Regions from separate parts of the Homo sapiens genome. Here regions 1 and 2 are each reported to be linked to region 3. The links are microRNA targets in miRTarBase. Many come from high-throughput screens and were not tested one by one. Region 3 holds a microRNA gene; each other region holds the end of a gene's coding sequence.
The links. The annotated mature microRNA hsa-miR-191-5p reads CAACGGAAUCCCAAAAGCAGCUG and lies in region 3 at 2,023-2,045, opposite strand. An mRNA with a match to its seed (bases 2 to 7 or 8) in the 3' UTR can be bound and repressed. Matches are read on the target gene's strand: a 7mer-m8 pairs with bases 2 to 8, a 7mer-A1 pairs with bases 2 to 7 and ends in A, and an 8mer does both.

Region 1 (3,334 bases), not on the chromosome of region 3:
CCCGCCGCCGCCGCCGCCCGCCGAGCTCAAGGCGGAGCCGGGCTTCGAGCCCGCGGACTGCAAGCGGAAGGAGGAGGCCGGGGCGCCGGGCGGCGGCGCAGGCATGGCGGCGGGCTTCCCGTACGCGCTGCGCGCTTACCTCGGCTACCAGGCGGTGCCGAGCGGCAGCAGCGGGAGCCTCTCCACGTCCTCCTCGTCCAGCCCGCCCGGCACGCCGAGCCCCGCTGACGCCAAGGCGCCCCCGACCGCCTGCTACGCGGGGGCCGCGCCGGCGCCCTCGCAGGTCAAGAGCAAGGCCAAGAAGACCGTGGACAAGCACAGCGACGAGTACAAGATCCGGCGCGAGCGCAACAACATCGCCGTGCGCAAGAGCCGCGACAAGGCCAAGATGCGCAACCTGGAGACGCAGCACAAGGTCCTGGAGCTCACGGCCGAGAACGAGCGGCTGCAGAAGAAGGTGGAGCAGCTGTCGCGCGAGCTCAGCACCCTGCGGAACTTGTTCAAGCAGCTGCCCGAGCCCCTGCTCGCCTCCTCCGGCCACTGCTAGCGCGGCCCCCGCGCGCGTCCCCCTGCCGGCCGGGGCTGAGACTCCGGGGAGCGCCCGCGCCCGCGCCCTCGCCCCCGCCCCCGGCGGCGCCGGCAAAACTTTGGCACTGGGGCACTTGGCAGCGCGGGGAGCCCGTCGGTAATTTTAATATTTTATTATATATATATATCTATATTTTTGTCCAAACCAACCGCACATGCAGATGGGGCTCCCGCCCGTGGTGTTATTTAAAGAAGAAACGTCTATGTGTACAGATGAATGATAAACTCTCTGCTTCTCCCTCTGCCCCTCTCCAGGCGCCGGCGGGCGGGCCGGTTTCGAAGTTGATGCAATCGGTTTAAACATGGCTGAACGCGTGTGTACACGGGACTGACGCAACCCACGTGTAACTGTCAGCCGGGCCCTGAGTAATCGCTTAAAGATGTTCCTACGGGCTTGTTGCTGTTGATGTTTTGTTTTGTTTTGTTTTTTGGTCTTTTTTTGTATTATAAAAAATAATCTATTTCTATGAGAAAAGAGGCGTCTGTATATTTTGGGAATCTTTTCCGTTTCAAGCATTAAGAACACTTTTAATAAACTTTTTTTTGAGAATGGTTACAAAGCCTTTTGGGGGCAGTAATTGGCTTTTGTTTTTTATTTTTTTACTTTATTTTGGATTTGTAGGATTTTGTTTTTGCGTTTCTGGTGTGTAGGGGGTTGTGTGTGGGGGGCTGCTGTTATTTTTGGAGGTTTTGGTGGTTGGGTGGGGGTGTTGCAGCTGGTTTTTCTGCCTCCTCTGCTACTCCCCCTCCCACACACACAGGGTCTGCTTGAGATGGGGTTCCAGCCCCGGGGGAAAGGGGAGAAGAGTAATGGGTCAGGCATTCAGGCTGACTCAGAGCCCCTAGGCGCCGGGACGGGTGGCTGGGAACCCTGCTTGAGAAGAGATTCCGGAGCCTCTGGCTGGTCCCGAGTGTCAGGCTTGGGTTTGGAAGGGCTGGGAGGTCTGTGACCCCTGCCCTGTGTTTGGGGACTAGGTAGGCAGGCCTGTGACTGTAGGAGGAGGGGGTTCAGGTCTTGGTCCTGCTGAGCCCGAGTCAGGGCAGATGCTTTTGGTCAGTGTAGTGGGGTGGGTTGTTTAAAACACAGTTTGTGTATACATGTGTATTTTAAAGAGGGGAGCCTGGGTGTGTGGGCGAGTCTGTGTTTGTGTGTCCCTGGCCAGCAGGAGGGGAGAGGCCAGGCCAGGTGGAGAGAGGTGGGGGAGGGGTTCCCACACTTTGATTACCTTTCCTGAGGATGGGAGGCTCATCACTTGCTCTCTTTGCCCAGACTTGGACACTGAGCCCACCTCACCTGCCTGCTCAAGGTGGCTGAGCCCAGGCACAAACGTGGGGCTGCTAGCCCTGATTCCCTGGGACAGGCTCCTCTTCCCTGCCCACTGATCCCTTTGCCCCTTCCGGCTTCTCACCGCACCCCCTACTCCCATCCAGCCCTGGATGGCATTCCTGAGAGTTGAGGATGTAGATGGATGTGAGTGGATACATGTACAGCGTCCCACAGTGCCTGGCACGCAAGAAGTGTTATATAAGCGCTTGCTCTTGTTATTATTTTTTGCTGGGAAGCTGCTGGCATTTGGCACCCCAGTCTCCAGTGCAGCGCCAGTGTGGCCAGTACTTGCCAGGGGCCGGCATCTGGTAAACACTGGACCTGCCCCATCCCATTTAGACCTCACAATAACCTTTGGGAAGGTGGGGATTGTTATGACGCCTGTTTTTAGAGGTGGGGAGCAGCTTTGGGCTGTCCGATCCCTATGGGCAAGACACTGGTTGGGGGTTGCCCTGCCCTGAGGAATTCAGGGGCAGCAGGCATCGTAGCCTGGTTTGCCAAGGACCTGGGGCGGTCTGGGATCTCAGGAGCAGTTGCTGATACCGTGGTTCGCGAATGGGAAATGCTTTGCCCCTCCTTTTCCTTTTGGGGGCCTGGTTGTGCTTTCCCTGTGGGAGCCTGGGATGTGGGGAACAGACAGCGACACTCATCCCCCACCGCCACAAAGCGGAGGATTCCTATAAGCTCCACCTCCCTAATGCCAGTGTCTCCTGATGGTGGCTCGAGGGCTATGCAGATTGCTGGACACAGATAACCTCACTTCAACCTGGGACCTGCAGCGTGGCCCTGACCACGTCCCCTCCCAGCCCTGGGCAACTGGACAACTGGCCGGGCATGCCTTCAAAGCCTCGAAGTCAGTTCAGTCCCAAGCCCCACTGGTCTCGATGGTTTCTGTCAGTAGCAGCGACAGCAATGTGGGCTTGACCTCAAGGATTTACTTGCTGAAGGCAGAGGCTGAGGGGCTGGACCTAGGGAAGGAGGGAGGTGGAGAGGGTCGAAATTGAGGAACAAATCTCAAATCCCTGCTCCCTCCTTTGTCACCAAGAGTTGGCTGGTGGCCACTGCTCACCCAAATGAGGTGAGAGGGAAGCAGCCTGGCCAGACGGTGCCCCTCTTCCGCCCCCGTCTGCCCCACAGCTTCGCTTCTGTTTCCCCAGTGCTGTCCTGGAACCAGCGTTGAGTCAGTTCTTCACACACTCACATCTTGCTCTCATCCACAGTACCCCACAGAAGGTGCTAGACCCATTTCTAAAAGCACACATTGAGGTCCACAGAAGTGAGGTTTGTGCTCAAGGTGGGCTAGGTGGAGCAGGTTACAAAACCATCCGACTCCCAAGTCTATGGGGAAAGTTTGGGGCTGGGAGCCTGGTTTGTAATCCCAGTTCCTGTTTAAAATCCCAGGCTCTTCTTGGAGGGCTC
Region 2 (3,079 bases), not on the chromosome of region 3:
TCTTAAAATCTAAGAGATCAGTAAAAAGTTTGAAAGGCAGTGTTGTCCTCCTCATCACTGAAACCTGTTGTCTGTAATGACAGCTTTCACATTCCCTTTCTCCAAACCCAAAGGATCCAAATTAAAGTAGTCCAAGAAAAAGAAACAAGCAATTTGGTCTGACATTGTGCTTAAGGAAAAGGGAGGATATAAAATATCCAGTGGCTGGATCAGTAGCTGATACTTTCAGAAGTGGGGCTGGAGCAGGAGGGCAGAAAGGGGCAGGTACGCTGTGGTCCACAGAGGTCCATGCAGATAGGTTCTCCCCATCTGTGAATAATAAATGGGTCCAAGGGCAGAGAGTCACCATTTAGAATGATAAAATGTTTGCACACTATGAAAGAGGCTGACAGAATGTTGCCACATGGAGAGAATAAAGCAGAGAATGAACAAACTTAATCTGCTTATCTCAGGGCAGAAGTAATTATTTTTGTTGGTTCAATAAATTTGGATAGGACTGAAAAAACCATTTGTAAACTATTATGCCAACAGACACGCAGGGTTTCCATATGGGGCCACCGACAGACAAATCAGGTAAGTGGGAAGCACTGATGCATACTTGCAGCCATAGAAGGAATGAGAACTGTCATTCAAACCAAAAGAGTCGGGAATTCACCTGTTAATATCTACAAAATGCCCAGGCAGAACTTATTTTGCAGGTGTCATGGGCATCACAGCACTGGACGGAAGTTGCAGTGTAGCCATGGACCAATTATTAACTGGCCCAAGGAGAAGAGGAAGAAAACTATTCTTTATCTACAATTAACTAAAATGCTTCTGCCCTTAAAAGAAAGTCAAAGAAATTGCCAAGAGCATGAATACAGAGAGTGGATTCAGGTGAGGGGCAATCAGTCTGAACAATGAGCAAGTCTATAGTTGTCCATTATCATCTAAAAGGTGACTCTAGGAAAGGAAAATGTTCTGTTGAGTTTCTACGTTAGTTGCCAAAGGGAATGTCATGGCCGCTTCAGAGGAAAAGAAATGGTAGCAGAAAATAGCAAAGGCTGCTATATAGTTCCTCCTTTTCCAACCTTCTTATAGGGCTGTTTTGGATCATAGAAAACAAGTCCAACTTTCCAATTCCTGCACTTGAACATATAAAGTCCATGTCTTCAGTGAGAACATACTGGGTATACCAGTAACACGGACCACACGGTGTGAAAGAAAGATTGGTGAGCAGGCCTTTAAGCAGCAAGATAATCAGTAGAGACTGATCATCTGACAAACGGAAGACAACTGTCACTGGGTCCCTTGGGCTAAGGAAAGTTCAGTCCTAAATGGCAAGGGTACAACATTTGAGACAGTGTCTTCTGTGGATATGAAAGGAAAGGCTCAACAGTTAAGACTAGTTTCATATGCTGGGTGAGTGAGTGAAACAGGCCTAGAATGCTCAGATCTGGGACAAATGTGTTCCATACAGGCAGTCAATGGAATGCTTGGCAGGAAGTAGGGGGACCTGTGGGTGGGTAACTGGCTCTTGCACGAGTTAACTTGTCTCTTGGTCATTCCAACATTCCAAACCTTTTTCTGGTTTTAAAAAAGTGGGGAGGGTCATAGTAACTAGACTATCAAGGATAAAACTTTACACTGACCAGGCCCATACACAGAAAAACAACAAACTCACACCCTTCTTCCTGGTAAAGTTTATATGAAGACCTGCACACAGACAAGAAAAATTAAGGTGCAGCCTCTTGAAGGGATCTCCTGCCCCCAAAATTTGTTGAAGAAAAGTATTCTTCTCCCCTTCTCTCTCCAGGAATGATATATGCAGGAGAACACAATACAGTATGTCCATTTTCCAAAGAAACAACATACTTGAAAGGTTTGTGCTGAGAACCATACCAAAGTAAACCTTGTGAGACTCCAAGGGATACCGGGAAGACAGGAGGGGAAAGGAGACCAAAGTTGCTTTCATGGGCCAGAATGATCAAAAGCACAAAGGTCTTGCCCTATAACATGCTGGTAGGGCTACAATCACGGAGAGGTGCAAAACCAAAAGCACCAAATGAAGACAAAAGAATGTCCAAGGAGGAGGAGATGCGTAGGTCAATTCAGGCAGAATTCCAGGGCATAATTCCCAACAGGACGCTAGTGTAGAATCTTCTCATGGATATGGCAGAAGCCTGCAGGGCTTAAAATGCAGTCCAAGCTGCAAGAATGTCTGGGCTTCAATAAGCATCCATCTTATTCTCCAAATAGAAGAGAGTAAACATGGACCCAAGGCTTGTATTCATCTTGCATTTCCACAAACTTGTCTTATTAGATTAGAATAATCAATAAGCCTTGCAGATACCCAGTGAAACTGACGAATTGCTTCTCTTGCATTATCTGAATAAGAACATCTTCTCTTTCCTACCTCTAGAAGCTGGCTCCAGAGATTTCTTCATTTCTCTCCCGGATGACCTTCATTTGTTCCTCAGCAGCATTTACAAAAGTCAGTTATGTCTCTACACTGGAGGTGGACTCTCTCACGCATAAACCTGCATGTTGTTGTGTGGTGGCTCAGACATGTGTGTCCCAGGTCCCCGCTGACCTCCTCCAGCACCCCCAGGGGTAGGGCTGGTGGTCACATCTGACCAGTCAGAAGCAGAGTGGGGTGATGAACTTGACCACTGGTCAGGAGACTCTGGGGATGGTGTCAGGTAGGGATGCTCACCCTGGAGGTGACCACTGTGACTGGGTGTTCGCTCAGCAGCATTTGAGGAAGCATAACTGTGCTGTGAAGGGGGTGTGGGGTACTTGCCCACAGAGGCTGGGAAAGGATGATAGGCTGGGAGAATGGTCTGAGCTACCTGCCCGTCCTGCTGGGGCATCATGGCAGTGGGGAAAGCCACACTGGGCAAACGGGCCATTTCTGGAATCTGGTACATGGTGGGCAGGGGGCCCGCAACAGCTGGAGGGCAGGTGGACTGAGGCTGGGGAGCCCCCGCTGGTTGGGCAATACTGCCTTTAGGGATGAGCTGGAAAGTCACAATGGGGGGCAAGGGCTCCCGAGGGGTGGTTATGTGCTTCCCTTCAGGTGGCCTGCTCTGGGGAGCTA
Region 3 (3,334 bases):
CGGCGGTGGTCCCCGTAAGTGGACAGGTGCGCCAGTGGTAGCCCTGTCGGCTGCTTTCGACCTACCGCCCCCAGCGCCCCTTCCGCGTGGTCCACCTGCACAGCCGGGCCCCGGATCTGAAATCTCGGGGCCCTCCCTGGGCCTAGGGTTCTTTCGCTGTGACCCAGGCCTTAACCAGGAAAAGGATCCTCGCGACCCGGTGGGCGCTTAGACCGGGTACCGTCTCTTCTCATCGAAGTCTCACATGTTTGTTTTAATAACATTTCATTTCTCCCATTTTACACATGATGAATATTCGTCACTGGAATAAGGCAGTATAACATTAAGGCCACTTTCACGACCTACTTAAAATATCTCGTTTTAAAAAGAATAGTGTTCCGCGGTTTCAGGTTATTTGCAAGCATTTTCTCGTTTGAGATATGGGTGTTTTTTTGTTTGTTTGAGACGGAGTCTTGCTCTTGTCTCCCAGGCTGGAGTGCAGTGGCACGATCTCGGCTCACTGCAGCCTCCACCTCCCGGATTCACAGGATTCTCCTCCTCAGCCTCCCGAGTAGCTGGGATTACGGGCGCCCGCCACCACGCCCGGCTAATTTTTGTATTTTTAGTAGAGACGGGGTTTCGCCATGTTGGCCAGGCTGGTCTCGAACTCCTGACCTCGTGACCTGCCCGCCTCGGCCTCCGAAAGTGCTGGGATTACAGGCATCAGCCACTGCACCCAGCCCGGGTGGTCTTTATGCCCAATAAATAAGCACTCTGATACAGTTGGCGGTTTTCTTCTCTTGATACCTGAGAAATCACAACCATCATGATGGCTTCCAGAATTACCAGACTTTTTTTTTTTTTTTTTGAGACGGAGTTTCGCTCCTGTTGCCCAGGCTGGAGTACAGTGGTGTGATCTTGGCTCACCGCAACCTCCCCCTCCCGGGTTCAAGTGATTATCCTGCCTCAGTCTCCCAAGTAGCTGGGATTACAGGCACGCGCCACCACGCCCGGCTACTTTTGTATTTTTAATAGAGACGGGGTTTCTCCATGTTTGTCAAGCCTCGAACTCCCGACCTCAGGTGATCCGCCTGCCTCGGCCTCCCAAAGTGCTGGGATTACAGGCGTGAGCCACCGCGCCCGGCTCAGAATGACCAGCTTTTAATGTGACTCCTTTAACCTGGTGTGCTTTAACAACGATCCTTAAAGCTTCCTGTTTTAGGCAACAGCCATTTACGGGCCAACCAAATAATGCGACCATAATAGAAAATAGGCCTCAGTTGGAGTATCTTGCTCCTCTACCAATAGGAAAGGTCTTTTTCTTTCTCCCACAAAGGTTCCCAAATGTCTTCATTTCACTGTAACTTACTCACCCCCCACCCCACCCCCATTCCTTTTAATAGAGAAGCTAACTCAGTAGAGAGAGTTGGGAAATCCGGAGAGCAGGGAAACCCAGGGGCAGGAAAAGCTTGGCAAGGCCCCTTTCTGGGCCAGGGCTGAGGCCCTGCTGGGAGGCGCCGAAAGAGCACTGGGCGGACACGACATTCCCGATGGCTTCTCGGGTGCCCACTCAACGGGAGTGATCGTGTCATTCCAAAGCGCTTTCCATTCTGAAGGTGCATGACCTGGAGACAACTGCTTAGCAGGGTTGGGAACCCTCAGTCAAACTGAGGACTTCAGATACTCTCATCCACGAAGACGGTTGGGGTGGTTTTTCCCCAGGAAGTAAGAGGGCTATCTTTAGCGAGATGCGGGCTGAGGCAGCCCTGGGGGAGTCACTACCATTGCAGCCCTACCCAGAGGTCCTGGGTCCACCCTCCCTCGCCAATCCTCCCCAGGGTTCCAGAGATGGCCACCAGCCTCGGCTCTCCCACGTCTACACCCATCACCTCCAGCCTGAGGGCGCAACTGAGAGGAACTGAGACCCAAGCAGCTCAGTAAAGTATGTCTGGGGGTCAGGGGCACCCCATCTGGGCCAGGGCGCTGCTCAGGCAGGAGAGCAGGGGACGAAATCCAAGCGCAGCTGGAATGCTCTGGAGACAACAGCTGCTTTTGGGATTCCGTTGCCCGCTGTCCAGCCGTTGGCGGGGGGCGGGGGAGCTCCTGCCCCCAGGTCACTCGCCCTGGGGCCACATCAGAACCCGCCCATCCCCAGTCCCAGGAGGAAGACCCGGGAGTAGGTTGTGAAACGGAGTCTAGAGGGAACAAGACGCTCACCTGGGCCACAGAACAATAGAAGGGGAGGTGGGGGCCTCCCCTGGGACCGGGTCCCGATCCGGATTAGATCCGTGGGGCAGGATTAGCCCTGTTGGTCCCACGAAGCCTGGGCCACTGGTGCGGTGACGGTGGTGGGGCGGGCTTCGGAATCCGTCAGGAGGGAAGCGCGCCCGTGGGGCCGGAGAGGAAGTAAACCCGCGCGTCCACCTCGGGGACACCCCCGCGCTCGGTGGCCTTTGTCCGGTGACGCTGCCAGCGCCCGGAGCACCAGGGGCCGAAGGGGTCCACAGAGCAGCCGCGGGACCCCCGGAAACCCATTGCGACCGGCCCCAGGAGACCCACCACCAGGCTCCCACTGTGCCGAGCTTCCCGCTCGCCCGGCCCCGCGGGTAGCGAAAGCGACAATGTTCCCCTGAGGCCACGACAGAGCCGGCGTGCCGAGATGCCCAAACCCCGCGCGGGGGCCAGCGACTCTCGCGCCAGTAGGCCCTTGACTTGGATCAAGACGGGGGACGGGGGACTCCCAGGACGCGAGCAGAGTGAACGAGGACAAGGTGATGCTCCACGCGCTTCTACTTCAAGTCTGGTCCGGTTCGGCCTGGTCTGGGCCAGCCGAACAGCCACCCAAACACTATCACAGCTTGCCCTTCCGCTTGCTCTGGCTGCCTGCAGACTTGGAGCCATTTTAAGGAGAAACCACCTGGCCACGCCCCCTAGAGAACCCGAGAAGCCAATCCACGCTCGGCCACGCCCCTCTCCGCGCGCTGCGGAGAGGCCAACGGTCGCGCGGGTGACGGTTAGGGCGGGGCGTGCTTCCGCGTCTAGCCGGAGAAACTTGAGCCGGCTGCCCCGCCCACGGTGCCCGAAGCCCCAAAGGCTGGAATTAGGGGCTAGAAGTCTGGCACCCACCGCCTGGCCAGGTGTTCGGGACGCGACCAGGTGGGCGGTCGCCCCGCCCCGGGAGCGCGGCTTAATAGCTGAGAGCCCGGGGGCCAGGCCGCGGCTGCGGCCCAGGCAACGCCCTGAGGGTGGCCACGCTGCCAGGTGTTCCACTCCCCCGGGACTATGGGCAAGGGCCCGGGGCGGGGAGGGCGGCAGGTGCTGACACTGGAGCTGCGCCGGAGGTCGGGGAACTCGG

Region 1: miRTarBase lists CEBPB as a target of hsa-miR-191-5p. Seed matches in the 3' UTR shown: 7mer-m8 at 1,091-1,097.
Region 2: the mRNA of NOTCH2 is a reported target of hsa-miR-191-5p. Seed matches in the 3' UTR shown: 7mer-m8 at 1,264-1,270.

The regions. Positions count from the first base shown.
Region 1 is chr20:50,191,525-50,194,858 of GRCh38, forward strand. CEBPB (CCAAT enhancer binding protein beta) reads left to right here. Exons shown (of 1, transcript NM_005194.4): 1 at 1-1,144. The coding sequence ends at 547. CEBPB-AS1 (CEBPB antisense RNA 1) reads right to left here and starts at 545. Exons shown (of 7, transcript NR_125739.1): 1 at 140-545. RefSeq lists silencers at 1-118, 539-648 and an enhancer at 2,013-2,574.
Region 2 is chr1:119,912,799-119,915,877 of GRCh38, forward strand. It overlaps NOTCH2 (notch receptor 2), which reads right to left. Exons shown (of 34, transcript NM_024408.4): 34 at 1-3,079. The coding sequence ends at 2,508. Among named protein-coding and RNA genes, the nearest start is that of ADAM30, 18 kb to the left of the region's middle.
Region 3 is chr3:49,018,650-49,021,983 of GRCh38, forward strand. MIR191 (microRNA 191) reads right to left here and starts at 2,060; the gene lies at 1,969-2,060. It overlaps MIR425 (microRNA 425), which reads right to left and starts at 1,585; the gene lies at 1,499-1,585. It also overlaps a transcript of DALRD3 not described here and a transcript of NDUFAF3 not described here. RefSeq lists an enhancer at 2,559-3,328 and silencers at 2,844-3,046, 3,083-3,272.